4 linked regions of the Homo sapiens genome follow. The protein of the gene in region 1 binds, or shares a complex with, the protein of each later gene. Each region holds a gene or a part of one and is shown in the gene's direction. Other genes may lie near its edges. The genes, in order: IPO13, EIF1AX, UBE2I and RAN.

The links.
Region 2: the proteins of IPO13 (region 1) and EIF1AX are in contact, whole or in part, in a crystal structure (PDB 3ZJY), measured with the Homo sapiens proteins. Residues at the interface, in NP_055467.3 of Homo sapiens: Tyr365, Asp369, Leu372, Asn936 (codon at 4,430), Lys937 (codon at 4,433), Arg938 (codon at 4,436); in NP_001403.1 of Homo sapiens: Leu42 (codon at 3,549), Arg82 (codon at 5,399), Lys88 (codon at 7,110), Tyr106 (codon at 7,164), Gly107 (codon at 7,167), Glu108 (codon at 7,170).
Region 3: the proteins of IPO13 (region 1) and UBE2I are in contact, whole or in part, in a crystal structure (PDB 2XWU), measured with the Homo sapiens proteins. Residues at the interface, in NP_055467.3 of Homo sapiens: Leu33, Tyr34, Tyr35, Asp36, Pro37, Ile39, Lys42, Gln46, Glu73, Tyr76, Gln178, Thr179, Arg181, Gln231, Glu261, Val264, Asn265, Met302, Glu303, His306, Arg310, Val313, Glu317, Asn318, Thr355, Ser358, Leu359, Leu361, Thr362, Ser413; in NP_003336.1 of Homo sapiens: Arg13 (codon at 2,593), Lys14 (codon at 2,596), Arg17 (codon at 2,605), Lys18 (codon at 2,608), Asp19 (codon at 2,611), His20 (codon at 2,614), Pro21 (codon at 2,617), Phe22 (codon at 2,620), Val25 (codon at 2,825), Val27 (codon at 2,831), Lys59 (codon at 4,204), Glu99, Asp100, Lys101, Asp102, Arg104, Lys110, Gln111, Leu114, Ile125, Gln126, Pro128, Ala131, Tyr134, Thr135, Cys138, Gln139, Ser158.
Region 4: the proteins of IPO13 (region 1) and RAN are in contact, whole or in part, in a crystal structure (PDB 3ZJY), measured with the Homo sapiens proteins. Residues at the interface, in NP_055467.3 of Homo sapiens: Leu33, Tyr34, Tyr35, Ile39, Lys42, Gln46, Leu49, Met50, Gln53, Glu73, Tyr76, Phe77, Ser80, His83, Ile84, Ile118, Thr121, Arg122, Val125, Val172, Glu175, Glu176, Thr179, Ser414, Asp415, Arg784 (codon at 1,108), Asp785 (codon at 1,111), Pro787 (codon at 1,117), Asp788 (codon at 1,120), Pro829 (codon at 3,578); in NP_006316.1 of Homo sapiens: Lys37, Lys38, Tyr39, Leu43, Gly44, Val45, Val47, Pro49, Trp64, Gly74, Leu75, Arg76, Asp77, Gly78, Tyr79, Ile81, Gln82, Asn103, Arg106, Asp107, Arg110, Val111, Tyr147 (codon at 1,579), Trp163 (codon at 1,627), Arg166 (codon at 1,636).

The regions. Positions count from the first base shown.
Region 1 is NC_000001.11:43,963,167-43,969,620, forward strand, and holds the end of IPO13 (importin-13), read left to right. Parts: intron 1-1,102; coding exon 1,103-1,155; intron 1,156-3,408; coding exon 3,409-3,475; intron 3,476-3,557; coding exon 3,558-3,616; intron 3,617-3,763; coding exon 3,764-3,853; intron 3,854-4,148; coding exon 4,149-4,330; intron 4,331-4,419; coding exon 4,420-4,516; 3' UTR 4,517-4,856; downstream 4,857-6,454. UniProt on the Homo sapiens protein: Functions in nuclear protein import as nuclear transport receptor. Serves as receptor for nuclear localization signals (NLS) in cargo substrates.
Region 2 is NC_000023.11:20,131,839-20,139,366, reverse strand, and holds part of EIF1AX (eukaryotic translation initiation factor 1A, X-chromosomal), read left to right. Parts: intron 1-744; coding exon 745-828; intron 829-2,953; exon of another isoform or gene 2,954-3,301; intron 3,302-3,525; coding exon 3,526-3,629; intron 3,630-5,359; coding exon 5,360-5,410; intron 5,411-7,103; coding exon 7,104-7,185; intron 7,186-7,528. UniProt on the Homo sapiens protein: Component of the 43S pre-initiation complex (43S PIC), which binds to the mRNA cap-proximal region, scans mRNA 5'-untranslated region, and locates the initiation codon. This protein enhances formation of the cap-proximal complex.
Region 3 is NC_000016.10:1,311,475-1,320,355, forward strand, and holds part of UBE2I (SUMO-conjugating enzyme UBC9), read left to right. Parts: intron 1-872; exon of another isoform or gene 873-1,129; intron 1,130-2,545; 5' UTR 2,546-2,556; coding exon 2,557-2,622; intron 2,623-2,818; coding exon 2,819-2,902; intron 2,903-4,179; coding exon 4,180-4,252; intron 4,253-8,699; coding exon 8,700-8,809; intron 8,810-8,881. UniProt on the Homo sapiens protein: Accepts the ubiquitin-like proteins SUMO1, SUMO2, SUMO3, SUMO4 and SUMO1P1/SUMO5 from the UBLE1A-UBLE1B E1 complex and catalyzes their covalent attachment to other proteins with the help of an E3 ligase such as RANBP2, CBX4 and ZNF451.
Region 4 is NC_000012.12:130,874,037-130,879,030, forward strand, and holds the end of RAN (GTP-binding nuclear protein Ran), read left to right. Parts: intron 1-509; coding exon 510-697; intron 698-1,575; coding exon 1,576-1,746; intron 1,747-1,845; coding exon 1,846-1,890; 3' UTR 1,891-3,642; downstream 3,643-4,994. UniProt on the Homo sapiens protein: GTPase involved in nucleocytoplasmic transport, participating both to the import and the export from the nucleus of proteins and RNAs. Switches between a cytoplasmic GDP- and a nuclear GTP-bound state by nucleotide exchange and GTP hydrolysis.

The DNA.
Region 1 (6,454 bases):
GAAACTGAGCATTTGTGGCTTGCGCAAGATCACACAGCTACTTAGTGGTGTCTTAGGCAGATGGTTTTGTACCACATCCTCCTGAGAGTGGAGAAGCCTGGGTAGGAGCTCCAGGTGCATGCCATATTCTTGCCTCAGGAATGATCAGAACTGGAGGCAGCAGTGTCCAACATCATATACGTTGGGCTTGTTGGTTGTCTCGCTGGACAGGATGGCTCCCATACCTGTTATGCCATCCCAATCTTAGCCATTCCTTCCTCGGGCTCTGCCTTCCCACTGGACCATAGGATGACATGTTTCTTGTTTCCCTGTTTCTTGGCATGTCCAGATGATGGGAACTAGTCCTCAGCCCTGAGCTTGGCTCTCTGCAGAGTCCATGTCCATGTGGAGGAGGTTTGCTGGGGTGGGGCTCTTGTTTTTGGCCTTATGATACTGTTTCCTCCTCTGGGCCCTGCCAGTGACTTGCCAGGCCATCTCCAGAGCATGCTGGGCACTGCCCTACCTAAGCAAGAGTCCTGTGGTTTAAGTGGACTGAATAGATTATTTTCCTTTGCCAGACCAAGAGCCCTAAGGCCATTGAAGTGAGGTGGCACTTACTCAGGCTCTGATGCCCTGGCCTTTCTAGGGCCCTCAGATAAACCTCAAAAGGAGATACCAAGGACTGACTCCCCCACCCCCCCACCGCCATCCCAGCTTTCCTCTTCAATGACTGGCTGATGGGAGGTATGTGCTAGGAGCAGTGTAGGGCTACCCCAACCTGCCAGAGGCCACAGTAAGTGTGGTGGCCGTTTCTTCAGCTATATGGAGTCCAGAATTGCTCAAGTACCAAGGGAACATGAGGGGATGGCCTGAGGAGGAGTGGGGAGTAGGCGGAAGGCCCCTTGGAGGGAGCTGGGGCAGGCCCGTCCTTCACTTTGCCGTCTCTTTCTGTTGGGCTTCTCCCAGTTCATGGTTTTTGTATGTTTTGTTTCTTTATCTTGCTTCCTGCTGCTCATGTGCCCCCACGCTGTCTCCCTGCAGGCTCTCAGTCCCACATAACTATATGAGGTTGAGTTGCTGTTTGTATAATTTTTTCTTAAGTTCCATCTTTATTATATTTTAGGGCCCAGGGATCATCCTGATATTGTTGATTCATTTATGCAACTCCTGGCACAGGTGTGTTTTAGTTTTATTCATTCACGTTCTGTTCTCTCTCTTTCTCTTTCTCTTATGTTGAAATTCAATTTAAGCCTATTTTTAGCTTTCTGTTGACAAATTTTTTTTCTGTTCAGTTGAATAGAGTTTCTTCATCTGTTTCCGTGGAAGTTGACAACCCAACATCCTCCTTTAGTGCCCCTATGCCTCACTAGCTCAGTCTTCTACAAAGACCAGGGAGAGGCTGATCCCAAACGGAGGGAGCTGGGCTGGCATCGGGTGGGGAATGGGAAAGGGAGGGGGTGGTGACTGCGCCCAGCAGCTTCTTGTTGCCCAAGAAGTTCACGTGTAGGGCTGGAGTTGAAGGGTCTGGGGTACACTGTCCCCGTGCTCCTGCCGGGAACTGCCTGCCTCAGTGCCCCCAGCCTGCTCCTGAGAGGTAGGCTGGGAGCAGCTCCAAAGCGAGGGGCTGAAGAGGAATGTGCGCGGTGGAGCCCAGAGTTGGGCTGTTGGAGAGGTTGAGCTGCTGCTAGGAGGTGGAGTGCAGGCTCCATGCTAGGATGTGTTTGCATTTTGTATGTGTTTCAGTGTGTGAGACCTTATTTTGTATGTTTTGAGTTTGGTTTGGGAAGGGAACAGAAATCACCTGTAAGTAGTATGTGAATTGTGTTGGGTGCTGAGATGAATGTGTGCCTTGATGTGTGCTGTATGTTGATGTGTTGTGTGTTTTGTGTTGTTTGTTGATGTGTTAGGCCTTGATGGATTTAGAGCGTGGACGTGTGTTGGAGGTGTGTGTGTTGGGTTGTCGGAGTGTATATTATGGAGGATAGGAGTGTATGTTGTGGCATTGGTATGTCTGTATCAGAGTATGGTTTGGAGATGCATGTTGGGCTGTGGGGGTATGAAGTTAGTGTGATGGGGGCTTCTGTGTGTTAGGGGATCCTAGCACGCAGACCCCCTAACCTGTGAATTGGGGTAAATGGAGTGTTTCTTTGCTTAATCATTCCACAGATATTTATTGAGTGTGTGATACATGCTGTACTTTGCTAGGTACTGAGGATATGATAGCGAGCAAAACCAGGCACAGTTCTTGCTCTCCTGGAACTTACAAGTCTAGTTTCTGGGGGATGGGTAGGGTGGGAGGAGGGAAGAATAGGGAGTGTTCTGGGCCTGGATGGATATGTGTGTGGGTGTTTTCAAAGGTGTATCTTTGATGCGGAGGGTGTCTGAATGTGTATTTGTGGATGGGTATGTTGGAAGAGTGCACAGGGGGACTGTGGGAAGGCTGAGGGTGTAGGTGTGTGGACATGGTTTGGGGATGTGCAGGTGTTTGGTGTATGACTGTGTAATGAGGGTGTGTTCCAGATGGGGAGAGTGTGTGTATGTTAGCGGTGTTAGAGAAGTGTGTAAGGAGGGCATTTCAAGTGATGGTGCATGTGGGGGTGTTTGCACATGAGTAAACATGGGGGGTAGAGGGGATGTGAGGGGCTGGAGGGTAGAGGTCTATGTGGTATGCACTGGGGGCATTGCTGGGGAGCAGCAGTGTTTGAGGATGACTGGAGCTGTGCAGAGCATCTCCTGTGACCTGAGGATGTGCCAGTCATGTCCTGGTACCACTCGGGGCAGGCCATCTGCCCCCTTCACTTCATCTCTTCCCCCTCACCCACAGCAGCACTGGCTCCTTGGTGTGTGTATGGCCGAAGAGGGCCTGGACACAGGGTACCCTGGGTGAAAGATGGGGCTGAGGCTCCAAGGCTCCTGCTGTACTTTTCTTCTTTTTGAGCAGGAGCTGGAGGGTGCCTCAGGAATACAGGAGGGACATGGGAGGAGGGCTGTTGGGCTGAGGGCTCCCTGTCTGGCTGCCATCTCTTCTTCCTGCTACCCTGTTCACAAACTGGGGGTGCTTAACTCCCTCTGTGAATCAACATGAAGTCACTGCTGGCAACCTAGAGCCTGCGAGACATCTGGCCCTGATGGAGGGGGAGGGAAAGGTGTCTGGAACCCAAACTTTCTGCATTATGATCCCCACCCCCAACCTCTCTCACGTACACCTGCGTGTTCATGTACACATACATGTACATAGCATCCCTTGAGCTGTCCTCACCTGACCTACTGAACTCTGAGGTGGTCCGGGTCCCCCAGAGATGGCTGGGTAGCTGGTTTTGGCAGCCTCTACCTGTGAGGTGTGAAGTTGGGGGCTGGGGTGGCAGGTGAGTGGGGGGGATGGTCCTTGGAGCTGGCTGGGGCTGGGCTTACCAGCTCCACCTCCTGCAGGCTCTGAAGCGGAAGCCAGATTTGTTCCTGTGTGAACGATTGGATGTCAAAGCTGTGTTCCAGTGTGGTAAGTGGGGCGAGATGGACAGGTGGGCCTGGGGCTCCCCTAGAAGGATCGTTAAACTGATCTGCCTCTGCCTTTCCCACAGCTGTGCTGGCCCTCAAGTTCCCTGAGGCACCTACTGTCAAGGCCTCCTGTGGCTTCTTTGTGAGTCCCATGCTGAACCCTGACCCACTGCCACCCCAGTGCCCTCCCCTGCCCAGGACTTCAGACAGTAGGGCTGGGGTGTACAGGTCTTGTCCTCAGGGAGAGCTGGGAAGGAGCTGGGCTGATGGGCCTCTCCATCCTCTGCAGACAGAGCTGCTGCCTCGGTGTGGGGAAGTAGAGTCTGTGGGAAAGGTGGTACAGGAAGACGGTCGTATGCTGCTCATAGCAGTGCTGGAGGTGAGACGGAGCAAAGGGGGGTTTGATGGGGGTGAGGGCCCCTCACTGCTGAGGCAGCTGGCCTTCTGGGAGGCTTGAGCCTTTGGTCCCCTAAGCTCTCAGATTCTGTTTCTTCTTCAATTAAATGCCTGAAAGTTGTTAGGATTGCTGTGGGGATCAGCTGGCTCTCAAAAAGCAGCGCTCACTGTGATGTGCAGTTTGGCTTAGGAACTGTCCAGAGGGCAGTTAGGCATTCTTGCTGCAGAAGCGGCGGAAGGGGCAACACCCTGGTGTGCTGAGAACCCCTCTCCCTCAGGCCATTGGGGGCCAGGCCTCCCGCAGCCTCATGGACTGCTTTGCCGATATCCTGTTCGCCCTGAACAAGCACTGCTTCAGCCTCCTGAGCATGTGGATCAAGGAGGCCCTGCAGCCACCTGGTTTCCCCTCTGCCCGCCTCAGCCCTGAACAGAAGGATACCTTCAGCCAGCAGATCCTTCGGTGAGCAGAGCTGGGGTGGGCCTGGGGTCAGGCAGAGAGGGGGCAGTGGTGGTGGCTGGTGCTAACCTGCTCTCCCTTTTCTCCTTCAGCGAGCGAGTGAACAAGAGGCGGGTGAAGGAGATGGTGAAGGAGTTCACACTGCTGTGCCGGGGTCTCCATGGCACAGATTACACAGCTGACTACTGAGGGGTGCCCCCATCCCATCCACCCCTTCTCTTCATCCTTCCCTATTCCCAAAGAGTAAACCTGGACCCTCACTGCTGTCTCTGCCTCCTTTCTGCTGTCACCACCACCTAACTGAAAGCCTGGGTCCAGAAGGCCTGGGGGAAGGATGGGAGGATGCTTGGACCCAGGCCTTGGGAGGGAATGGTGGGAACATCCTCTAGCTCCCAGGTTGGAAGAGATACTACTGTAGCCAAGCCACCTAGGCTGGAGCCCTTCAGAATACTGTCATTGTCCTTGGGGCGGGGTGGTTGCAGTAGTGTCATCAACCCCCCCATCCCCATTAAATTAATCCCAACATGCATGTATGCATACATTTATTTAATCAACACCGCCGAATATTAGGCCCCTAGCTCTGTCCTGCGTCGTTCTGCCCTGAACAAAGGTTGATCTAGTCCATAGCTACCATGGAGAATGGTAGGAAGTGAGGGAAGGCTGCATGGAGAAAGTTTTTGACAGGAATAGTAGGCTTTCTAGGTAGAGGACTTGAGACTTTGGGCTGCAAGTGGGGTAGGGCTGGGTCCGTTTAGGAAGGAAGAAATGGAGTGGAGTTTTGACTTCCGGGAGGGGTTTCTGGTGTGGAGTTATACAACATCGAACTTGCATATGGTTGAGGAGGGCTATAGAAAGGGGCTGAGTGTGTGTGTATTGGGGGGTGGGTGGGTGGCAGGGAGGTGAAGGAGAGAAGATATCTCAGCCGCAGAGGAGAAAAGAGGAAAGTAGGACCTAAGGTTGTCCATATGTCCGCTGCTCCCCGCTTACACAGGACCTCCAGCACAGGATGGTCAGGGATCAATCAGCACCAGGGACAGCTCCTGACCTATTCTTGCTTTTCTCCCTTAGCAGTGTTGCCTCCCTTTCTGTCTCCTCAGCTATAGTTTCACCTAGGCTGCCTCTCAGGTACCCCAGGCTTCTCCTCAGTAAGATCTGAAGAGCAGAATGAGTTCTCCCCACTTTTACCCTTGAGCTTTCAATCTCCTTGTGGGTGATGGGGAACTCGTTACTCCCACATTCATCCCACTCCTTCCCTGTTCAATAGATCCGGGTTTGATGCTGGTTGTGCCACAGAATTAGTGTCTTATTACACAAGTAGTCTCTTTGAACCTCAGTTTCCGTATCTGACAGAGGTATGTAAGGAGGGCATTTCAAGTGATGTTGCATGTGGGGGTGTTTGCATATAAGTAAACATGGGGAGTAGAGGGGATGTGAGGGGCTGGAGGGTAGAGGTCTATGTGGTATGCACTGGGGGTATTGCTGGGAAGCAGCAGTGTTTGAGGATGGCTGGAGCTGTGCAGAGCATCTCCTGTGACTTGAGGATGTGCCAGTCATGTCCTTGGTACCACTCGGGATAATTCTTACTCCAAAGACTGTAAACACTAAAAATGAAGTGCCTAATGTACAGTAAGTGCTCAGTATTTGGCTGATTAAATAGCAAATGCTTTCACTGCATGCGATATCCAAAGAACTACTTTGTAAAGTTTTGTATATAAATTAATTAGACCCTCACAACAATCTTATTAAGAGGTACTATTGTCACAACTCCCCATTCTTCAGATAAGGAAATGGGCATAGGGACATTCCTAAGATACTCAGTAGCAAGTGACCAAGCACAATATTCAAACCCGAGCCGGTCGGCACCAAGTTTAAAATTATGCAGTGTAGCCGGGCACGGTGGCTCACGTCTGTACTCTCAGCATTTTGGGAGGCCGAGATGAGTGGATTGCTTGAGTTCAGGAGTTTGTGACCAGTCTGAGCAACATGGCAAAAACCTGTCTCTACAAAAAATACAAAAATTAGCTGGATGTGGTGGTGCGCCTGTAGCCCCAACTACTCAAGAGGCAGAGGTGGGAGGATGGCTTCAGTCCAGGAGGTGAAGGTTGTGGAGATCGCGCCACTGCACTC
Region 2 (7,528 bases), on another chromosome or scaffold:
TGACAAGTAAATGGGCAGAATTATTGCATAGTGGTTAAGAGCATGGTCACTGGGGTCATATAATAGAAACAGGGATGTTGAGTAGGGACCAGCATTATAAAAGAAAGTAAATTGGGTACCGAACAGATCTTCTTTATTTTTTAAGAGACAGTGTCTCGCTATGTTGCCCAGGCTAGCCTGGAACCTCCTGGGCTTGCTCAAGTGATCCTCCCACCTGAGCCTCCTGAGTAGCTGAGACCCTAGGCGCACACCACTGCACCCAGTGAGATTTCAATATTTATGGTACTCTGCTACCAAAAGTTTGAAAACCACAGTTCTCTGTCCAGACACTGTCTTCACTTAATTTTGAAAGTATCGGGTTCCTTGCATAGGGCCTGGCTTTAGAAGACACCCAAGATTTCCGCTTAGAAGAATATGTATAGAATTGCATTTTTATTTCAAAAGGATGGGTGCTAAAGTGAAATGTTTTTCTATATTTTTTAACATAATATCTGCTATTTATGTGTATTTTATGTCAGAAAAATCCCCAAAGGAAATTCCAAGAAGGGTAGGGAGGTGATAATGTGTTAATGTTGGGATTGGAGATTGTAAATTTAATATGATTGTGTAGCTAAAATAGATGAATTTTTTAATTTAAGTGATCTTTTAAAAAATGGTTTTATAAGCCTTAATTTCATTTTATTTCATACTGTTTTACAGATAATTAATGTCATTTACCTCCTTTTCTTTTTTTTAAACCATCAGGTAAAGGAGGTAAAAACAGACGCAGGGGTAAGAATGAGAATGAATCTGAAAAAAGAGAACTGGTATTCAAAGAGGATGGTCAGGGTAAGTGTTTTCATAAATTACGCTTTTTAAAATAACATCCTTTCTTTTTTAGCTGGGGACTTTATTTTTTTGAGACAGCGTCTTGCCCATCGCCCAGGGTGAAGTGTGGTGGCACGATTACAGCCCACTGCAGCCATGACCTCCTGGGCTGAAGCAGTCCTTCCACTTCAGCCTCCCGAGTATTTGGGACTACAGGCACACACCACCACGTCTGGCTAATTTTAAAAATTTTTTTAGGCTGGGCGCAGTGGCTCACGTCTGTAATCCCAGCACTTTGGGAGGCCAAGGCGGGCGGATCACGAGGTCAGGAGTTCGAGACCAGCCTGACCAACATGATGAAACCCCGTCTCTACTAAAATTACAAAAATTAGCTGGGTGTGGTGGCACGTGCCTGTAATCCCAGCTACTCAGGAGGCTGAGGCAGGAGAATTGTTTGAACCTGGGAGGCGGAGGTTGCAGTGAGCCGAGATCACACCACTGCACTCCAGCCTGGGTGACAGAGGGAGACTCTGTCTCAAAAAAAAAAAAAAAAAAAAAAAAAAAACTGTATAGAGATGAGGTCTTCATATGTTGCCCTGGCTATTCTCGAACTCCTGGGCTCAAGTGATTCTCCCACCATGACCTCCCAAAGTACTGGGAACTAAGAATGTGTCGTATAGTTCAGAGGGAATTGAGCTATGGTTGACAGTTCTGTGATTTAGTTGGCAGTTCTATGATTAGCATTTCTGGTAGTGAATGGTACATATAATATGTTGAGTAGACCATGGACATTTGAAGGATGAGCCTGAGGCCCTTATAGACCTCTCCATTCTCCAGTGCCATTAGCATATAACTTCGTAAACTACAATAAAATGAAACTGAACAGTTAACTGATTTTATTAGACTGAAGAATATTGTAAGTGCCAGACCAAGATACATAGCACTAGTCAAATAAATCCTAACTGGATCGTTTGCCCTTTCCTGTTACTTTTATTTCGAGTCATTTCAAACCTACAGAAAGTTGCAGTATTAGTGCAACAAACTCCCTTAAATCCTTCATCTGTACACACACATATAAAGAAATATATATGTGGGATTTTTTAATTTTTTTTTTGAGATGGAGTCTCGCTCTGTCGCCCAGGCTGGAGTGCAGTGGCGCGATCTCGGCTCACTACAAGCTCCACCTCCCGGGTTCACGCCATTCTCCTGCCTCAGCCTCCCAAGTAGCTGGGACTACAGGCACCCGCCACCATGCCTGGGTATTTTTTTTGTATTTTTAGTAGAGACGGGGTTTCACTGTGTTAGCCAGGATGGGTCTCGATCTCCTAACCTCGTGATCCACCCGTCTCGGCCTCCGAAAGTGCTGGGATTACAGGCGTGAGCCACCGCACCTAGCCCCATATGTAGGATTTCTTCAGGACCATTTGAAATTTAGAGACATCATGTTACTTTTCCCTTACTTGATCATGTATCTTCTAAGTGCAAGTATATTTTCTTATATAACTAGAAGAGAATTATCACACTCAGGTAATTTGACATTGATATAATATCTAGTATATACTCCATATTTCCTCAGGTATTCCAATTATTTCCAGTACTTTAGCTTTTAATAGAACTTTGGGTGGATTTATTACGCCATACATATAAACCAGTAAACATGAGATACGTTTTCTGGCTAAAAGTCCTTTGGTTTCTTAGCCTTGGTCATCCTTGCCTCTAAAATAGCAGCTGACTTGACTTGGGCATACACTGTTTTATTATTACTTTTTCCCTCACTTCAGAAGAAAGGCTGCCTTTGAGTTGACCAACCATGTTGAGGTGGTAGATGGGTGCTAAACTCACTGTAGTCTGAGTAATTGACTTCCACAAGTCATCCCCACTGTTGAGCCTTTCAAAATGAAGTCTCAGTATATTTACAAATTAATGGACATCCTCTCTGGGGATTAGTCATATTCTAATTCAACAAAGACATTGTTTGAAGTTTGTTTTTGTTTGCTAAATGAACTAAAAATTATGAGATTTGCACCTAAAGGTACTGAGGTAAAGGAGAGCCAAAAGTGGGGTAGTCAATCTACTTATTCAGAATGAGTCGATAATTTAAACATGTCTAATAGCAGAGACAGTATATTATAGAAATGGCATTACATTCTCTGAGATCTGCTTTTACTGAAGTGGATCAATGATGAAACTAGCCAAATCTGAGCATCAGAAGGCTTTCCGGTCTACCTGATGCATGATCTCTACAGTTCTGAGAAGCAGAACTATAAAACAATGTAAAACAATAAGGGCATATGTCTGGTGTGTGTGTGGGGGGTGTGTGTGTGTGTGCACGCACACGTGTTTATAAAGGTAGCAGTTGTAGGAATGAATGAGATTGGGGGTGAGGGGGTGCATATGTATGTCTATGAAAGCCTAATCATTTCTGGGCAATGATGTAAAGGTTTTACGACTGACCTTTGTAACTATGAAGTTTTCTACACTTGACCTGAGCTCAGAAAAAAGAAAGAAAGAAAGAAATGTCATCATAGAGTCTTAGTTCTAGCTCTGCCGTTAACTAACTTGATGTTTATCACTCCCTTATGTTTGTTTATAGTTTTACTATATGTATTTATTCCCAACTGGTGCAACTTTATTCTCTTGACAGTTTTATGTGGACTTTAAGTTGCTGTTATCAAAAGTTGAACAATATTCCATACCCTTTTCCTTTCTCCCCGCTAGAGTATGCTCAGGTAATCAAAATGTTGGGAAATGGACGGCTAGAAGCAATGTGTTTCGATGGTGTAAAGAGGTTATGTCACATCAGAGGAAAATTGAGAAAAAAGGTAGGTGTGATTTGTTTTACTTTAATATAAAATTGGTTAAGGGGGAAAATCCCTCTACAGTTTTTAACTGTCCATGGACTTCATTTTTGGAAATTCCCAAAAGACTTACCTTGGTAAACAGTGATTTACCTATAAGTAAAATAGCAAGGTCTGTAATGGTAATTTTATACAGGTTCTAATGTTAAAGAAGCATTTGTATCACTTGTATTGTATTCCTGCCCAAAAAGTCCAAATTGAGAGACATTCTGCAAAAACAAACGGCCCAGTTTTTTTTTTCCTTGTCTTTTTTTTGATACAGGGTCTCACTCTTATCACCCAGCCTGTAGAGTAGTGGCATGATCTGGGCTCACTGTAACCTCACCCTCATTGGTTCAAGTGATCCTCCCACTTCAGCCTCCCGTGTAGCAGGGGCTACAGGCCTGTGCCACCATGCCTGGCTAATTTCTGTATTTTTTGTAGAGATGGGGTTTCTTCATGTTGCTTAGGCTGGTTTCGAATCCTCAGCTCAAGCAATCAGCCCACCTTGGCCTCCCAAAATGCTGGGATTATAGGCATGAGCCACTGTACCCAGCCAGATGGCCCAGCTCTTAATGCAATGTTACTGTCATGAAAGTTTCAAAAAAAAAAAAAAAAAAAAGCTGGGGTACTATTCTAGTTGCAAGGAGACTTAAAGAGACCTGACAGTTAAATGGAGTAGGTTGCCCTTGTTTGGATTCTGATTTAGGAATTGGACATATAGCTGTAAAGTGTACATTCAGAAAATTTGAATATGAGTTATATAAGCATTGTATTAATGTTGCATCTCTTGAATGTCATCGTGAATGGACTGCCTTGGAAAGTAATGATTAATTCACCATCACAGTAGTTATTCAGGCAGATTTATTAATCAGGTTGACTAAAAGTCCCAACTCTGATTTTGTATTTATTTTTTTTAATTTGGTATGTTAATCCTTCTATTCCCAAACTAAAATCTTTTTTTCTTTTTCTTTCTTTTTTTTTTGAGACAGAGTCTCACTCTGTCATCCAGGCTGGAGTGCAGTGGCACAATCTTGGCTCAGTGCAATCTCCGCCTCCCAGATTCAAGTGTTTCTCCAGCCTCAGCCTCCTGAGTAGCTGGGATTATAGGCATGCGCCACCACGCCTCGCTAATTTTTGTATTTTTAGTAAAGACAAGGTTTTACCATTTTGGCCAGGCTGGTCTTGAACTCCTGACCTCAAGTGACCCGCCGGCCTCGGCCTCCCAAAGTGCTGGGATTATAGGCGTGAGCCACAATGCCAGCCCAAACTAAAATCTCTTAATTTCTTTTCTTTTTTTTTTTCTTTTAAAGAAGTTTATTTATTTGTTTTTTTGAGACGGAGTCTCACTCTGTTGCCCAGGCTGGAGTGCAGTAGCGCAGTCTTGGCTCACTGCAACCTCCGTCTCCCAGGTTCAAGTGATTCTCCAGCCTCAGCCTCCCGAGTAGCTGGGACTACAAGGGCATGCCACCACGCCCAGCTAATTTTTGTATTTTTTAGTAGAGACGGGTTTTTGCCATGTTGGCCAGGATGGTCTCGAACTCCTGACCTCAGGTGATCCGCCCACCTTGGCCTCCCAGAGTGCTGGGATTACAGGCATGAGCCACCGCTCCTGGCCTAAAATCTCTTAATTTCTAAACTAATTGATTGTTACTCTGGAATTTCTTGATTCTTCGTTATTTTAAATGTGACGGGCAGTGACTTTTCTTTTGTAGGTTTGGATAAATACCTCGGACATTATTTTGGTTGGTCTCCGAGACTACCAGGTAAAATTTACATGTAAATTTTTCCTATTTTACTGGCTTGAATTTGATGAGCCATTTCTTAAGAGCCAGTTTTGTTTCAGGCATTGTGCTAGGTATCCCAGGGATTTATGTTTAAATCAAAATCTGGGAGCCATTATTCTAGGGGATACAGCTGAATGAGTTAAGTGCCCATCCCACAAAAGGCTCATAGCCTGGTAGTGGAGAGAGTTAAGCACACAAGTAATTACAATACACATCACAACATAGGTATGTGCTATAAATCTAAAGGAGCACTTGGGAAAGAAAGAAAGTGGTGGTTGCCTTTCGTGATGGTAACCCTTGACTCTGTAGACTCATTGTGGGTCTGTGAGATCCATTTGACATCCACCTATTGGAAATCATCCCTGTATGATACTATCTCTATTTGTATAGCCTCGATCATACTTTGATTTAAAAAAAAAAAAAACCCAGAATAAATAATTTAAATCTTCACTTTAAGCCATTGTTTCTCAACTGTGGGCAGTTTTGCCCTCCGAGGGACATTGGCAGTGTCTGGAGACTTTTCTGGTTGTCACAACTGGGGGATGGGTGCAGTGCTGCTAGCATGTAGTAGATAGAGGCTGGGGTGGGCACAGGACAGCATCCCATAATAGAGAATGGTCCGCCTCACAATAATCCATAGCGCTGAGGTGAGAAAGCTTGCTTTAAATTCATACCATTTTAATGTCCATTTTTTTCTTATGATCTAACAATAACCCCAGAAATAGGAAGAATAAGTAATTTCCTGTTCGATAGATAAGGAAACCAAGGGTCCAAAATGAGTAACATTTTGACTGTAAAGTGACAGCCAGGACCAACTTCTGATTTGAAATTATTCATGATCTTTCCGTGCCCCTCCTACTTACAGGGTGGTCAATGGCTCGATAGCATCTTCTGGAAGCTTGTTAGAAATACAGGTTCTTTGACTCTTCAGTCAGAACATGCATTTTAATAAGATCTCCATAGGCTTCTATACACTTTACATTTTAAGAAGTACTGGTCTGAATCACACTGTCCTTGAAGTTGAAGCAATCAATTTTCTCCCTTAACTGAGTTAAATTATTTTCAAATAGGGAAGTAGAAACATTCTAAGGCAGTATTTCTCAATGGGACTTTTGCATCAGAAATACCTAAAGAACTTCTCACAATACTAATTCTTGGGCTTCTCTTCACATCTACTAATCTGTCTTCAGAAGATATAAAAGCTCCACAGGAGATTGTGATTGATACCTAGGCAAAGAAGCACAGATAATACAGAAAGGTATAATTTCCTTAGGTCATTATACCAGTCTCAGTTCAGTCTCAGTTTTGGAATTGCAGTGTTTGATCACCCTGCAAATTATTGTCCCAGGGAACTTTTGTACTTCAAAAGACTTCTGATCAAAGGGTAATATTAAATAATCTAAAATATGGGGTATGCACAGTTCTGCTCTTATTAAAGTGAGATCTCTATATTTCCCAAGCTTGTTAATCATTCAGGCATGTACATAAGCTTCCTCTTGGGTTAAACCTAAGGATCTTTTTCAGAGGGTATGAGAAAGCTTTAAAATTTAAAAGGAGAAAGATTTATAGTAAAACGGTGAGATTTGATTGTTTATTCAATATGAGAATTTATGAAATAACTGATAATATTTTGTTATGATCAGTTTTTTAAAGTTATTTGTCTCTATTTAAGGATAACAAAGCTGATGTAATTTTAAAATACAATGCAGACGAAGCTAGAAGTCTGAAGGCATACGGCGAGCTTCCAGAGCATGGTAATGTCTGAGTTACTGTATTAACTTGTCATATGGTATTTAGGTTATGTGTTGCTGGTTAGGTGAAGGAACTATGGATTTTGCTTATTTACTTTAGTGCTCACATTTTTAGTTTTAAGTATGCCTGCCTATGCTTCATAATACTAGATACTATAAGAAAGAAATTACTGGAATTCTGTTCCTAATAAATATGGTGAGGAGTTCTGTAAGCTTTGGACTTCCACATAATGCTAACTAAAGGAATAATTTTGTTATAGTATCTATTAAAATTCCTTCCTCGAGAGACTGTCAGTGCGCATATGGGTTAAACACGAAGTGCAAGTCAGCCGGGCATGGTGGCACA
Region 3 (8,881 bases), on another chromosome or scaffold:
AGGGGACACAGCAGCAGCAGCCAGGTCTTGGCAGGAGGTCTCGCAGGACCACCCCTCACGACTTCTCACACCTGAGACAGCAATAGCTAGGTGCTGGGACGGGGGCCTCTAGGCGGCTCTGTCCAGTCCTCAGCAGGAGGGCTGCCTGTGGCAGGGTCCCAGGCCCGTCTGGCCTCTCTGTGGCCTGGCCTTGCCTGGCTGTGAGGATAGCCTTGCCCATGGTCCTTCAGTGTCTGGAGCACTGGCCTGAGGCTTCAGAGACTTGCCTGATGCCTGGCCTCGCTCAGACCCCGGGCACCTGGGAGGTCGTGCCTCCTTGAAATGGCCACTCGCCAGGCTGCTTTGCACCGCACCGGGCACAGGCTGCGGCCACTCAGGAAGCCCATCCTGGGGCTGGGGAAGCGAGAGCTGTGAGTCCTCAAGTCGCAGCTGGGCTGCTCCACGTGGGAGTGGAGGGTGGAGGAACGTGTGGAGTTTCGGAGTCCAGCCCAGTGCGGAGACAGCCTTGAAACCGTGGTTGGCGGGCGCTCCACTCCGCTCTGGGCTCGAACCCTGCCTGACCATAGCTGTGCCCCCCACTTTCTCCCTGTCTGGCCCCTGGCTCCCCCCCCCTCACTTAGAGGAGGGCACGGGGAAGGGCAAACGGTCCAGAGGGCGGGCGGCCTGCGGGCTCCTCTGCATCATGTGAGGAGGGCGTGGGGAAGGACATCCCGGTGGGGCCCGGTCTGGGGCTGCCTCCAGCCCGGGCTGCCTGTCTTGGACTTAGTCGTGGACCTGGAGGCCAGTGCCCGGCTGGCCCCTGTCACCCTCTCGCTGTGACGCCAGCGCCTGCTGACTGGAGGACCCAGGTTCCTTCGCCTGCTTTTTCTCAGGCTGCCCTGAGGATCTGTGTTTGGTGAAAAGGAGCCAAATTCACCTGCAGGGCAGGCGGCTCTAGCAGCTTCAGAAGCCTGGTGCCCTGGCGACACTGGACCTGCCTTGGCTTCTTTGATCCCAACCCCACCCCCGATTTCTGCTCTGCTGACTGGGGAAGTCATCGTGCCACCCAGAACCTGAGTGCGGGCCTCTCAGAGCTCCTTCGTCCGTGGGTCTGCCGGGGACTGGGCCTTGTCTCCCTAACGAGTGCCAGGTGAGGCTGCGGCGGCTCCGACGCAGGTGGAGCTGCTGACCTGGCCCCTTTCTGCGGCTGCGAGGTGTGTGAGGTTCGTGGGCCTCCACAGGTGTGGGAGCCATCCAGGTCCCCAGGGCCCTTGTGGCTATTCTAGGACAGCCCAAGCCGTAGTAGGGACGGCCCCCCACAGCTTAGAAGACCTGGCTCAGTCCCCCAGCTTTGTAGAGGTGGCTCTTGTTTGGTGTTGAGATATCAGACTTGGGGGTAGTAGCTTCAGTGTTCCCATGGACTTTGAAAACCAGCACACACTTAGGTTTGAATTCTTGGGCAAGTTTTGTATCTTGAGCGCTGTTTTTCGTGGGTAAAGGTGGCCACCAGTAGGGTGACAGTTGAGGGTGGCATTGAGGCTGCTGGCCCTGTCTGCCTGGTGTCCCCAGTGACAGTGCTGGCCGACAGGCTCCCGCCGAGAACGCAAAGGCGAAGGTGCCAAGCCCCCGAGGTCCCGTGCAGATGTGTGGAGCTGGAATCTGGCGTGTGTGCCGCTGCCTCTGATCAGGGACCTGGTCCCCTACCCCATGCTCCTGCCCTGCCCTGCAGGACCCGTCTGTCCCCTGAAGCCACAGGGACGTGGTAGTGGCTGCACGGTCTGGGAAGGGTGTCCCCGTGGAGGGCTCCTCTCTCAGTGAGGCTGAGCCTCTGCCCTGTGGTACTTGTTCTGCTCTGTCTTCAACATGGTGAAACCCTATCTCTACTAAAAATACAAAAATTAGCTGGGCGTGGTGGCACACGCCTGTAGTCTCAGCTACTCGGGAGGCTGAGGCAGGAGAATTGCTTGAACTCAGGAGGCGGAGGTTGCAGTGAGCCGAGATCGTGCCACTGCATTCCAGCCTGAGCAATAGAATGAGACTCTGTCTCAAAAAAAAAAAAAAAAAAAAAAAAAAAGAATAACAGGTGTCCCCTGGCCCAGCCTGAGTCTCAGTTCTGAGCGCCTGATACTAAGGCAGGGACCCAGCACCCCACATCCATCTGGGGCCCCAGCCCTGCCTAGTCCCCACCTGATGGTATGGTGAGGACCCTGCCATGTCAGCCACCACAGGGTGGCAGCTACCCCCCAGCCGCAGCGGCCCAGCCTCTGAACATCTGTCTCCTCACCTTCGAGCAGAGGCCGCAGCATGTGTCGCAGACCAGGGCTGGGTTGGGGCCATGGGGAGGGGTCCTACCTGCCCCCGCCTCCCGGTGATCTGGGCGCCGCTCACAAGGCCTCCCCTGGTAGACCCCCGGGGTCGGACGACGGCTTGCAAGAAGAGAGTCCCTGCTGGGCCAGGCCACCGTATGTTAGGAGCAAGCCTGCCTGCTGCGGGCCACGTGCGCGTGCTGGGGTGGCAGGAGCCCGCTCGCCTCTCCTGACCCCGTGCTCTGCCTCCTGTGTTCCAGGGACTTTGAACATGTCGGGGATCGCCCTCAGCAGACTCGCCCAGGAGAGGAAAGCATGGAGGAAAGACCACCCATTTGTAAGGAGGGCTTCATTTCTGTGTGCAGTGCCGCGGACAGGCTCCCTCGGCTGAAACCGCGCCCTCCCTACTGGGAGGGAGCTGGTCGCGTGCCTGGGCTGGGCCGGTGGGACTCGCAGGCCGGTTCTTGGTGGTTTTGCTCAAACTAGATGCCGCCACGCTGATATGCTTTTGTGGTTGTTTTCTTTTCTCTCAGGGTTTCGTGGCTGTCCCAACAAAAAATCCCGATGGCACGATGAACCTCATGAACTGGGAGTGCGCCATTCCAGGAAAGAAAGGGGTAAGGGGCGCTGCCGGCCTCCTGCCTGTCGGGGCTCAGCAGATGCGTGCGGCAGTGCCATGGGGATACTCCGCTCAGATCCCTGCCGTCCGTGACGGCCACCCTTGTCACAGGCCGCGGTCAACAGCTCAGATCCCCAGCTGTGGCCTGGCCCCCGCCCCGTGAGGACTTGAGCTCAGAAGGTGGTGCTGGCAAGGTTGGGGTGACAGCTGTGTCCCTACCGAGGGCATTTCTGGTTGAGAAGGAAGCAGGCTGGGCCTGGCCGGGCACAGGGCTGAGCTGTGGCAGAGGGGAAGGGGCTCTGATGTGTGTTGGGAGCAGGCCTGAGGGGCGGGCAGCCTTTGCGTGCTGGAACCCGGGATTCTGCTGTGTCCTTCCAGGTGTGGCTCAGGTCGCGGGAGCTGGGTTTGCAGGAGAGCCACCCCGGCCTAAAACCGTCTACTGGAGAACCTCCTGGGGCACAGGGACTGGCGGCAGCCACCTAGGATGCCTGCTTGGGGCCCCGTGTGTCTGTGGCAAGCAGGGCGGCCCATGTGCCTGTCCTCTTTGCCCGGCTCACATGAAGTGCTTGGCCAGGGACTCCAGGCCGGCTTGCACATAAGGTTCATGCTCGTGGACTCTGAAGGAAGGAGAGATCCCTGAGGTGTTGGTCCTGCCCGAGGCCTTGTTCCCTCCGGCCCATGCCAGCCTCTGGGTTTCGCTCTGAAACTCACAGCAGCTCCGGCCCCCTGAGCTGAGCAGTCCCAGCAGGACTCAGCTTTGCCCGAGACAGGATGTGGCTTGGATTTGTCACTTGTCTGAGGCTCTGCTGAGAACGTCCCTTGCCCTTCACATTACGGCGAGGCAGGTGCGCGCGCGGCCCCAAGGAAGACGGGAGTGGTGTCGGGTTGTGGGGTGGCAAAGGCGCCTCATCCAGGCGGGACCTGGGGCAGGGGCTTGCAGAACACCCTGGGGTGAGGGCACGGGTGTGCTCTTGGCGCTGCCGGCCCCAGTGTGCGGCACTCGTTGCCCCCCAGCCCAGCCCCCGACCCCCGTCTCCTCCTCTCCTTTCCAGGAGGGCCTTTCCGACTCACTCTCTGGGCATGGCAGAGGTCCTGACCGCCCCCTTGGTGGGGCTGGTCCAGGCTTCAGGCTGGTATGGGAGCCGCCTCTGTCGGGCCTCTGGCCCCCGGTGTCCTCGCAGTCCTGGAGGTTGTGTCCTAGAAGCGATCCCCTTCCTCCTGGGCCGGCCTGCGGCAGGCAAGCAGCCCATCTCACCACGGTTTATTTCCCCACAGACTCCGTGGGAAGGAGGCTTGTTTAAACTACGGATGCTTTTCAAAGATGATTATCCATCTTCGCCACCAAAATGTAAGTAGCTCCCTGTTCAGTGTCCTGGAAGTCGGCCTGTTCCTGCGGGGATTGGAGTCCTCTCCAAAGAGGCCCGTGGCTGTGGCCGTGGCGCCCTGGTCCGGGCGATCCATGGAGCTGGGAGGGAGTGAGATCACAGATTTGGAGGTCGGCTTTGATCCCTGATCCCCGCCTCAGGCTGCAGATGCGAGTCTGTTTCCAGCTCCACGGGTGGGCGGTGCACGTAATAGACTTAGTCTCTCATCCCAGCTAATTGGCTGGGAAGCTCCAGAGTCCTTTGCAGGGAGAGGCTGTGAGATCCAGGCTGGAGCTCCTGGGCTAGGAGTGCCTGGACCCTCAGTGATTGTTGGCGATGAAGACAGGATTTGGTGCCCACAAGACCCCAGCCCTGGATGGGATGGACGTGCAGAAGCGCCACCACTCCGAGTCTCACTGGAGGGTTTATCTTGCCCCACCTCACTGCTCTTCCTGTGGGCTCTCGCAGTCTCTCCCACCCGGGGCTGCGTCTGCAGCCGGGCAGGCATAGAGCAGGGGAGCAGCAGAGAAGGCGCGAGAAGAAAGGGCTGAGGCCAGGTTCGACTTTGAGCCTACAGCTAAGTTAGTGATCTCAGTCAGTTCAGCAAAACTCAGGAGAGGGAGGAGAGGGCCGCCACGTCCCTGCCGTCCCATAGCTGGAAATCGGCAGGCCCTTTCTGTGGTGAGTTCCACGCATTAACACGTGCCCAGCACCTAGACAGCGCCTGGCCACGGTGAGGCGAGAGTGCTGTGTAAAAGCTTCCACTGCAATTGTCACTCAAGACACACAAGTGTTTTCCACAGTGGCAGTGACCAGAGGAGCTTGAGGACTGCTGACAGCACCAGCTGGTCGAGACTTGCTTCATTTTTGGATTGTCCTTTGCTGTTTGATTTTTTTTTTAAACCATGAGCAGGTATTACTTAAGATGACTTATTTTAATTAAGAAAAATATAAGAATGAGACACAGTAGCTGCTTTCATTGATTCTGTTCAACCGTTGATTGGAATTCCAAGCAAATGCAGCAAGACAAGAAAAAGAAGTCACAACGGAAGAGGTGGGGAGGAAGGCCAGGACAACAGCTCAGTAAAGCTGAGGTGCAAGGCTGGGCACGGTGGCTCACACCTGGAATCCCAGCACTTTTGGAGGCCGAGGTGGGAGGATCACCTGAGGTGAAGACCAGCCTGGACAACATGGTGAAACCCTGTCTCTACTAAAAAAAACAAACAAACAAACAAAAATTAGCGGGTGTGGTGGTGGGTGCCTTTAATCCCAGCTGCTCGGGAGGCTGAGGCAGGAGAAGTGCTTGAATCCAGGAGGCGGGTCCAGTGAGCCGAGATCGCGCCACTACACTCCAGCCTGGGCAGCAGGGCAAGACCCTGTCTCAAAAAAAAAAAAAGAAAAGAAAAGTAGCACAGGACCTGGTAAAGGAAACAAAGCTAAATAATAAATATAAAAATGAAGTCGAGATTGAGGTACACAAATCTGCTTTTATATCATTTCAGCGAGCAAGGTTTTAAAACTGCCATTTATAGTAGCATGAAATACGTTGGAATAAATGCAATAAAAGATTGGTTCAGGACCTCTGTACCGAAAACTGTAGAATATTGCAAGGGAAACCAAGGCCGGCCTGAGCGGTAGCTGAGCTCTGCCGTGTGTGTGGAGGGGAACACACGACATTGTACAGACAGCCCTTCTCTCCAGGCTCGTCTGCAGATTCCATGTGATCCCAGTTGGAGTCAAGCACATCTTGTTGGAAACTGTCCCATGGACCCAGGAAATGCAGAAACGTGGAGGCCTTGGCTTCTTGGTGGGGTGGCGAGACCCAGGCTGAGGCTCCGTGGGTGCAGAGCACACCCACCCACCCCCCACTAGACCTGCCACGGGACACGGTGATGGAGACTGCAGGCTTGCTGAGAAGACAGGCAGGCAGACCCGCGGACAGAACGAGGAGTCCGGAGGCCACGCATGTGGTGGTTTGGGCTGTGACACCTGAGGGATATTCCAGCAGGAGAGACGAGCTCTGCCTCCCACCATAGAGAAACAGCTTCCAGATGGCTTGTGGTGCCCAAGCAGGACAGCGTGGAGAGGAAGACCCGGGATGGTGTCCGTGAGCCCTGGGCAGGCAGGGATCTCTTCACCAGGGATGCAGTGAAGTGCTGGCCGGAGGGAGATTGACGAGTTGACTAAGTTGAAATTAAGAATCTCTCTTTATCATAAAGACTGCAGTTGGCGCCGGGCAGGAGGGCACACTACAGTGTATGTACGTACCTCAGCCCTCACCCTGAATCTACCAAGAGCTCCTGGGAATCAGTAAGAAGGCTGCCATGACGTCCAGCGTGTCCCTCACAGGAAAGGCCTCCACCCAGCCAGCAAATGCGGCAGGGATGCCTGGCTTTGCCAAAGAGTGAAAGCCTCCCCAGTGGGATCTGCCGTAGCGCACAGGGGAGCAGACGGAGCCGCGGCGCAGGGCAGCGGGAGCCTCAGCCACCGCTGGAGAGAGCGGATGTTCTGAACGTTTCCCCTGGACGCTGCCTGCCACACCAGTGGAAGCTGAGCTCATGCTGTAGGACCTGGCTGTTCACTTGAGTCAGTCGAGATTCACAGAAGCACATACATGTGTCCACCAGAGGCACAGATGGGTGCCGGTGTCACCCCCACTTGCCCCAGCCCAGACGTCCTAGGATGACAGGTAGGGAAGAGTGAAGAGGCCACATGATGCCTGGCGGACAGTCCAGACAGGAGGGCACCCCCTTTGTGTTCCTTCTTTGAAGCGCGGGAGCGGCCAAGCCGGAGGCCATGAGGAAGTAGGAGGCAGCCTCTACCTTGGGAGGGACAGGTGGACCTGGCAGTGCTGGCATCCAGCATCTGTGCCTTTCTGCGGGTAAGTTGTGATCGGCAGAAGAAACGAGATTGAGAATCAGATTAAATTGAAATTAGGCAATTTTTGTTTTTGCCAAAAGATTCCCTTAGAAGAGGAAAAGGTCGGGCCGGGCGCGTTGGCTCACACCTGTGATCCCAGCACTTTGGGAGGCCAAGGCAAGTGAATCACTTAAGGTCAGGAGTTTGAGACCAGCCTGACCAACAGTGGAGGAACCCCGGTTCTAATAAAATAGAAAAATTGGCCAAGCTTGATGGCGGGTGCCTGTAACCTCAGCTACTCTGGAGGCCAAGGTGAGGCGGGAGAATCACTTGAGCCCGGGAGGTGAAGGCTGCAGTGAGCCGAGATCCAGCCTGGGCACCACAGTGAAACTCCATCTCAAAAAATTAAAAAAGCAAAAAGTCAAGCCCCAAGCAGAAGAGCCCTGTAAGACGTATCGCTTGAGGAACTTCTGCGAAGCAGTCGCCAGGAAGCAGCCTGGGCCGAAAGGGGCGCTCAGCGGTCACCAGCAGGCGCAGCGTAGCACCACGGAGTGGCTGCCGTGCACCTCACCCGGTGGCTGGAATCCGCCAGCGACGCAGCCTGCGTGAGCAGCCTGGAAGCAGCACGGCTTGAGGGCCAACACCGTCACCCCACATTCCACAGCAGCGCGCTCACGCGTGTTCGCACTCAGGACAGCCACGCAGCTGCTGGTGTCGCCCGTGTGCTCCTGCGGTGTGGGATGGTCGCGGTGTGGGACGGTCTGCGGTGGTGTCTTCGCGTTCCCCAGGGAGTGTGCCCTGTGCATCTCCATGGTACCTGAAGTCCAGGAAGCTGCCTGCGGATGTTGCAGTTGGGATTACGGGGCAGATGCAGTGGTCGGTAGGAGCGAGTGTTCGGGGAAGCTGTAGGTGTTCGTGGCGCGTTGGCTTTCTGGTAATTCCTCCGGCTGCACTAGACATGCCGCACTGTGTGTCCTTCCGTAGCATTGAGAGAGAAGAGGGAGGATGCCCAGGTAAAAGATGGGAAATAGCCTAGAATATCAACTGTGATGGTCCCTGGTGGGGCTAATGGTGGCAAACTTTTCTGCTTTTTTGTAAAGAAATAACACAGGGTCCTAAAAGCCCGTATATCCTGGAAGCAGAGGGTCTGCGTCGGAACAGCCGACTCTGGAAGGGCGTTGGCTATGTCCCTGGACGTCTCCTGCAGCTCCTCCCATCTCCCCTGAGTCTGGCCCAGCTGGAAAGGATGTGGGGGCCACAGGTTAAGTGGCCACCCTGGGGCCTGTGTTCCCAGACTGCCTGGCTGTGCTGGGAGTTCTGTCCTGGGAGAGACACAGCTTCGTCTCGGCTGCGGCCGTGTCCCCAAGGCTCTGTTCCCTGTGTGCAAAGGTGGATATGTCTTCCTTTAGTCTCCTCATGGCCACAATTTAATTTTTTTGAAAAGTTTTTGGCCAAATAACCTGGCTACCAACCCGGGGCCCCAGTGTTGGGAGGAGGGTGATGTGGGGAAGGACGTGACTCTGGGACAGTGCCTGCCTCCAAAAAGTGCTTCCTTTCTTCCTCTTCCTCCAGGTAAATTCGAACCACCATTATTTCACCCGAATGTGTACCCTTCGGGGACAGTGTGCCTGTCCATCTTAGAGGAGGACAAGGACTGGAGGCCAGCCATCACAATCAAACAGGTACGGGGCCTCCGCCTCTGGCACCGGCAGGGCTGCCTTAGTCTCCCCTCCGGACACGTGGGTCTGTGGTCA
Region 4 (4,994 bases), on another chromosome or scaffold:
TGGGGATTCACCATGTTGCCCATGCTGGTCTGGAACTCATGAGCTCAGGTGATCCACCCACCTCAGCCTCTCAAAGTGCTGGGATTACAGACGTGAGCCACATTGCTTGGCCTATCTGGATTTTTTAAGACAGGAATAATGTTTTCCAGTATAGCCAGCCATTTAAAGACCTTCTGAAGAATGTGTTTCCAGGCCCTACCCTCAGAATATGGCAGCTTGGTTATCCAGAATCTCATTTAGCATTAATTACTTCAGATACTTTTTTGGGATGAGGGGAGTATTAATGGTGAAGTATATCAGGGAGATTTGATAGGGTCAGCTCATCTCTCTTAGGAGGAATTGTGTATTAACATTTTTAGAATTGACAGAGACCTTGAAAGTGAGGGGAGAGATACAGGTGACTCGTTGAGGTCTAAGACTATAACTAGTTGAATCCTAGTCTCTGGTTCTTAGCATTCTTCACTTGTGCAGTAAACTGAGTGTACTAATTCCCACAAATGTTTCTTCAGCCCAGTGTGCCATCATAATGTTTGATGTAACATCGAGAGTTACTTACAAGAATGTGCCTAACTGGCATAGAGATCTGGTACGAGTGTGTGAAAACATCCCCATTGTGTTGTGTGGCAACAAAGTGGATATTAAGGACAGGAAAGTGAAGGCGAAATCCATTGTCTTCCACCGAAAGAAGAATCTTCAGGTGTGTAAAATTAAAACTTCCTGAGTTATTTCTCTTAGCGGAGATTATATGTAAGACCATGAAATTAACCAGTGTCTATTATATATGGAAATGATTTTTTTTTCCCCAAGACGGAGTCTTCCTCTGTCCCCCATGCTGGAGTGCAGTGTCGCAATCTTGGCTCACTGCGACCTCCGCCTCCCGGGTTCAAGCAGTTTTGTCTCAGCTCCCCTAGTAGCTGGATTACAGGTGTGTACCACCACGCCTGGCTAATTTTTGTACTTTTTTTTCTAGTAGAGACGGGGTTTCCACCATGTTGGTCAGGCTGATCTCCAACTCCTGACCTCAAGTGATCCACTTGCCTTGGCCTCCTAAAGGGCTGGGATTACAGGCATGAGCCACTGTGCCCGGCCGGAAATAATTTTGTCTTTTTTATACTACTGTTTTTAAAGAATGATAGAGATTGGGTTTCACTGTTGGCCCGGTTGGTCAGCTGAAATGTTTGTGTATTTATATATTTGTTGTTCGAGACAGGGTCTTGCTCTGTTGCCCAGGCAGGAGTGCAGTGGCATGAACATAGCTCACTGTAGCCCTGAACTCCTGGGCTCAAGCAATCCTCCCACCTCAGCCTTCTGAGTAGCTGGGCTCACAGGCACTCACCACCATGCCCACCTAATTTGTTTTTTTGTGGAGTTGGGGTCTTGCTCTGTTGCCCAGGCCTGATCGTGTACTATTGGCCTCAGGCAATCCCACCTCAGCCCCCGAAAGTGCTGGGATTACAGGCATGAGCCACCATGCCTTGCCAAGAATCTTAACATTTTCTTATCTTGCAATGTCCTAGAAAAATCGTCATCTTAATAATGAATTTTAAAAAGTAATTTTACCTTTCTTTTAAACAGTACTACGACATTTCTGCCAAAAGTAACTACAACTTTGAAAAGCCCTTCCTCTGGCTTGCTAGGAAGCTCATTGGAGACCCTAACTTGGAATTTGTTGCCATGCCTGCTCTCGCCCCACCAGAAGTTGTCATGGACCCAGCTTTGGCAGCACAGTATGAGCACGACTTAGAGGTATTGTGGCCACTTTGCTGTTCAGATTGTTCGGTTTGGCTTGTTTATTCCTGGCAGTTTTGATCTGGAGTGTTAACGTTTTTCCATCTCTTCGTCTAGGTTGCTCAGACAACTGCTCTCCCGGATGAGGATGATGACCTGTGAGAATGAAGCTGGAGCCCAGCGTCAGAAGTCTAGTTTTATAGGCAGCTGTCCTGTGATGTCAGCGGTGCAGCGTGTGTGCCACCTCATTATTATCTAGCTAAGCGGAACATGTGCTTCATCTGTGGGATGCTGAAGGAGATGAGTGGGCTTCGGAGTGAATGTGGCAGTTTAAAAAATAACTTCATTGTTTGGACCTGCATATTTAGCTGTTTTGGAACGCAGTTGATTCCTTGAGTTTCATATATAAGACTGCTGCAGTCACATCACAATATTCAGTGGTGAAATCTTGTTTGTTACTGTCATTCCCATTCCTTTTCGTTTAGAATCAGAATAAAGTTGTATTTCAAATATCTAAGCAAGTGAACTCATCCCTTGTTTATAAATAGCATTTGGAAACCACTAAAGTAGGGAAGTTTTATGCCATGTTAATATTTGAATTGCCTTGCTTTTATCACTTAATTTGAAATCTATTGGGTTAATTTCTCCCTATGTTTATTTTTGTACATTTGAGCCATGTCACACAAACTGATGATGACAGGTCAGCAGTATTCTATTTGGTTAGAAGGGTTACATGGTGTAAATATTAGTGCAGTTAAGCTAAAGCAGTGTTTGCTCCACCTTCATATTGGCTAGGTAGGGTCACCTAGGGAAGCACTTGCTCAAAATCTGTGACCTGTCAGAATAAAAATGTGGTTTGTACATATCAAATAGATATTTTAAGGGTAATATTTTCTTTTATGGCAAAAGTAATCATGTTTTAATGTAGAACCTCAAACAGGATGGAACATCAGTGGATGGCAGGAGGTTGGGAATTCTTGCTGTTAAAAATAATTACAAATTTTGCACTTTTTTGTTTGAATGTTAGATGCTTAGTGTGAAGTTGATACGCAAGGAAAATGGTCCATGTTTACCCACAGTTTTCAGGTACTCCTAGACTTTAAAGATGTCTTGAACATTTAAGTTCTTCAGCAGTTCACACTACACCGTTTTTTTGTTTTTTTTTCCCCCCCGGGAGGGTTTTTTTGTAGGGCAGCACAGCAGAGCAGGACATGGATGAAATACTAGGAATATGCACAGTGGGGCAGTGTGGGGGCTTCTCAGTAATGGAGAACAGTTGGTGAAACTTTTTTTTTTTTTTAACTAAGCATTTAATTTATCTTGCATATTTTCCACATTTAAAAATGAATTAGGTCTATTAGGATAATTAGGAGTTTGATCCCATCAACACTATTCTTGTAGCAGTTAGGAATCTTGAGCTATTTTTTTCTCATACGATTACTATAGTCCAGTTTACCAAAGTTTTCTTTAGATGTCTGATAATCTTGAGATGATTGCTTACCTTAAAAGGTATAGAAAGGATCACTTAAATATATGGAAAAATGAAATAAGGGTGAAGCTGAATAAAGTTCTACTTACTGTATTAACTGGCAACAGTTGAGTTTCTTAAGATCTGAATTGCTGTGTATGTTACGCTGTATTCAGAACCAGTTTCTAACCAGCCTGTGAGATGGGAAGTTTTTTCCCCATAATTGGGATGAAACCTTTCATTCAGGTATTTTGAATTGAAGGTGTATGTGTTGTTTGTAACCTTGTGGAGATTGCAAGTGGTGTTGACATTCTGGATCTTCTATGTAACAGTTGAAATTTGGAAGTGACGTCACTTACCTGTCTAACGTGGTGTGGGAGAGAATTTACAAGTCCTTTATTGAAAGAATAATTGTTGCAAAATATATTGCTTCTACTTTGCCTGGATTTTTTGAATCATCTCTAGTATTTGCTTTAGGAAATGCTGAAGAGTTAGCAGAGATTATTATCTTTTGGGGGGGCGGCGGGGAAGGGGTCAGTTCTCTCCAGATTGTACAAATGGGAAAAGTCTGCTCTCCATTTTTTGAAATCTCGTGTCTAATGGGGGAAGCCTTGAAAGCTTTATATGAAGTTACTGCAAACCAGTAATAGCTTATTAGAGCAAAGTCATTAAGAAAAAGCATAGTTAGTGCATAGGTCTTGTGTGGATATAATGTGAAACTGGTAAATTAGTAGTTTCAATTTGTGTGAGAGCCAGTTTTTTTAAAAAACCACATAGAATGGGATTTTTTAAAAAATTGTATCAATCATAAAATGTCTAGAAAAGATGAGACTCCAAAATAGCCTCCAAAGAGGACTGGTTTCCTGGCTAACTGTTCACCTGAAGGAACTCAAGTACAGAGAATTTCTGGTTTCTTTTGCAAAAACAGATCAGAAACACAAAAAATTACCTGCTGAGCAAATGGGATGAGGGTTGGATTCAGCTTTTCTTGCCAGCAAACTGACGGACATCGTGTATGATGTTTTCTGCCACTCGGGCTGTACAGGGCTATCCTGCCCAGCAAGATTACGTGAGACTAAGCTTTCCCTGTATGAGGCAGACCCTGTACTAGGACAGCACCTATCCTAACTCCTTGCAGCACCTTTTACCCTTGAAGCCGAGGGCATGGTGGGGAGAAACGGCACCTAACCATGGAAACCTTATCTTTAGTTAAGGGGTCAGAGTCCTATTCAAAAAACATCTGATGCATCTCGCCTGCTCCACATTTCCTACAAGGTCTTGCAGGCTCTGGTCACACGTGCATCTTGAGATCTGTGTGCATGCTGCTTTCCAGAACTCCCCCTTCCCTCTCCTGAAGTCGGTCCTACCAGTTAATGCTTTAGTTCCTTTAGAGTTCACTCTGCTTTTTACCTTGAGTTGGATGTCCGACTACAGACATTACAAGATTGCCTTCAGCCCTAGTCAGCATGGCAAATTTGCGATAGCGACTTTCCCTTCCTAGACTAATTGCCACGAGGGCGAGGGCCATGTCGCTGCTCTCTCATGTCCCTAGTGTTTATTAAATGTTCTATGGGAACCTCGAGGAACAGAGAACTTGGGGGTTAGAGATAGGGTGGGATTGATGGAGGTGGGTGGAGAGGAGCCGGGAGAACTTTATACACCATTAGGTCTGACTATTCTGAAGTCATGCTGGTATTTTCTTCCTGAGGTTTGTAGCCTACACTATCTTTTTAATTTTATTTATTTATTTATTTAATTTATTTATTTATTTTTTAGAGTCTCGCTCTGTCTCCCAGGC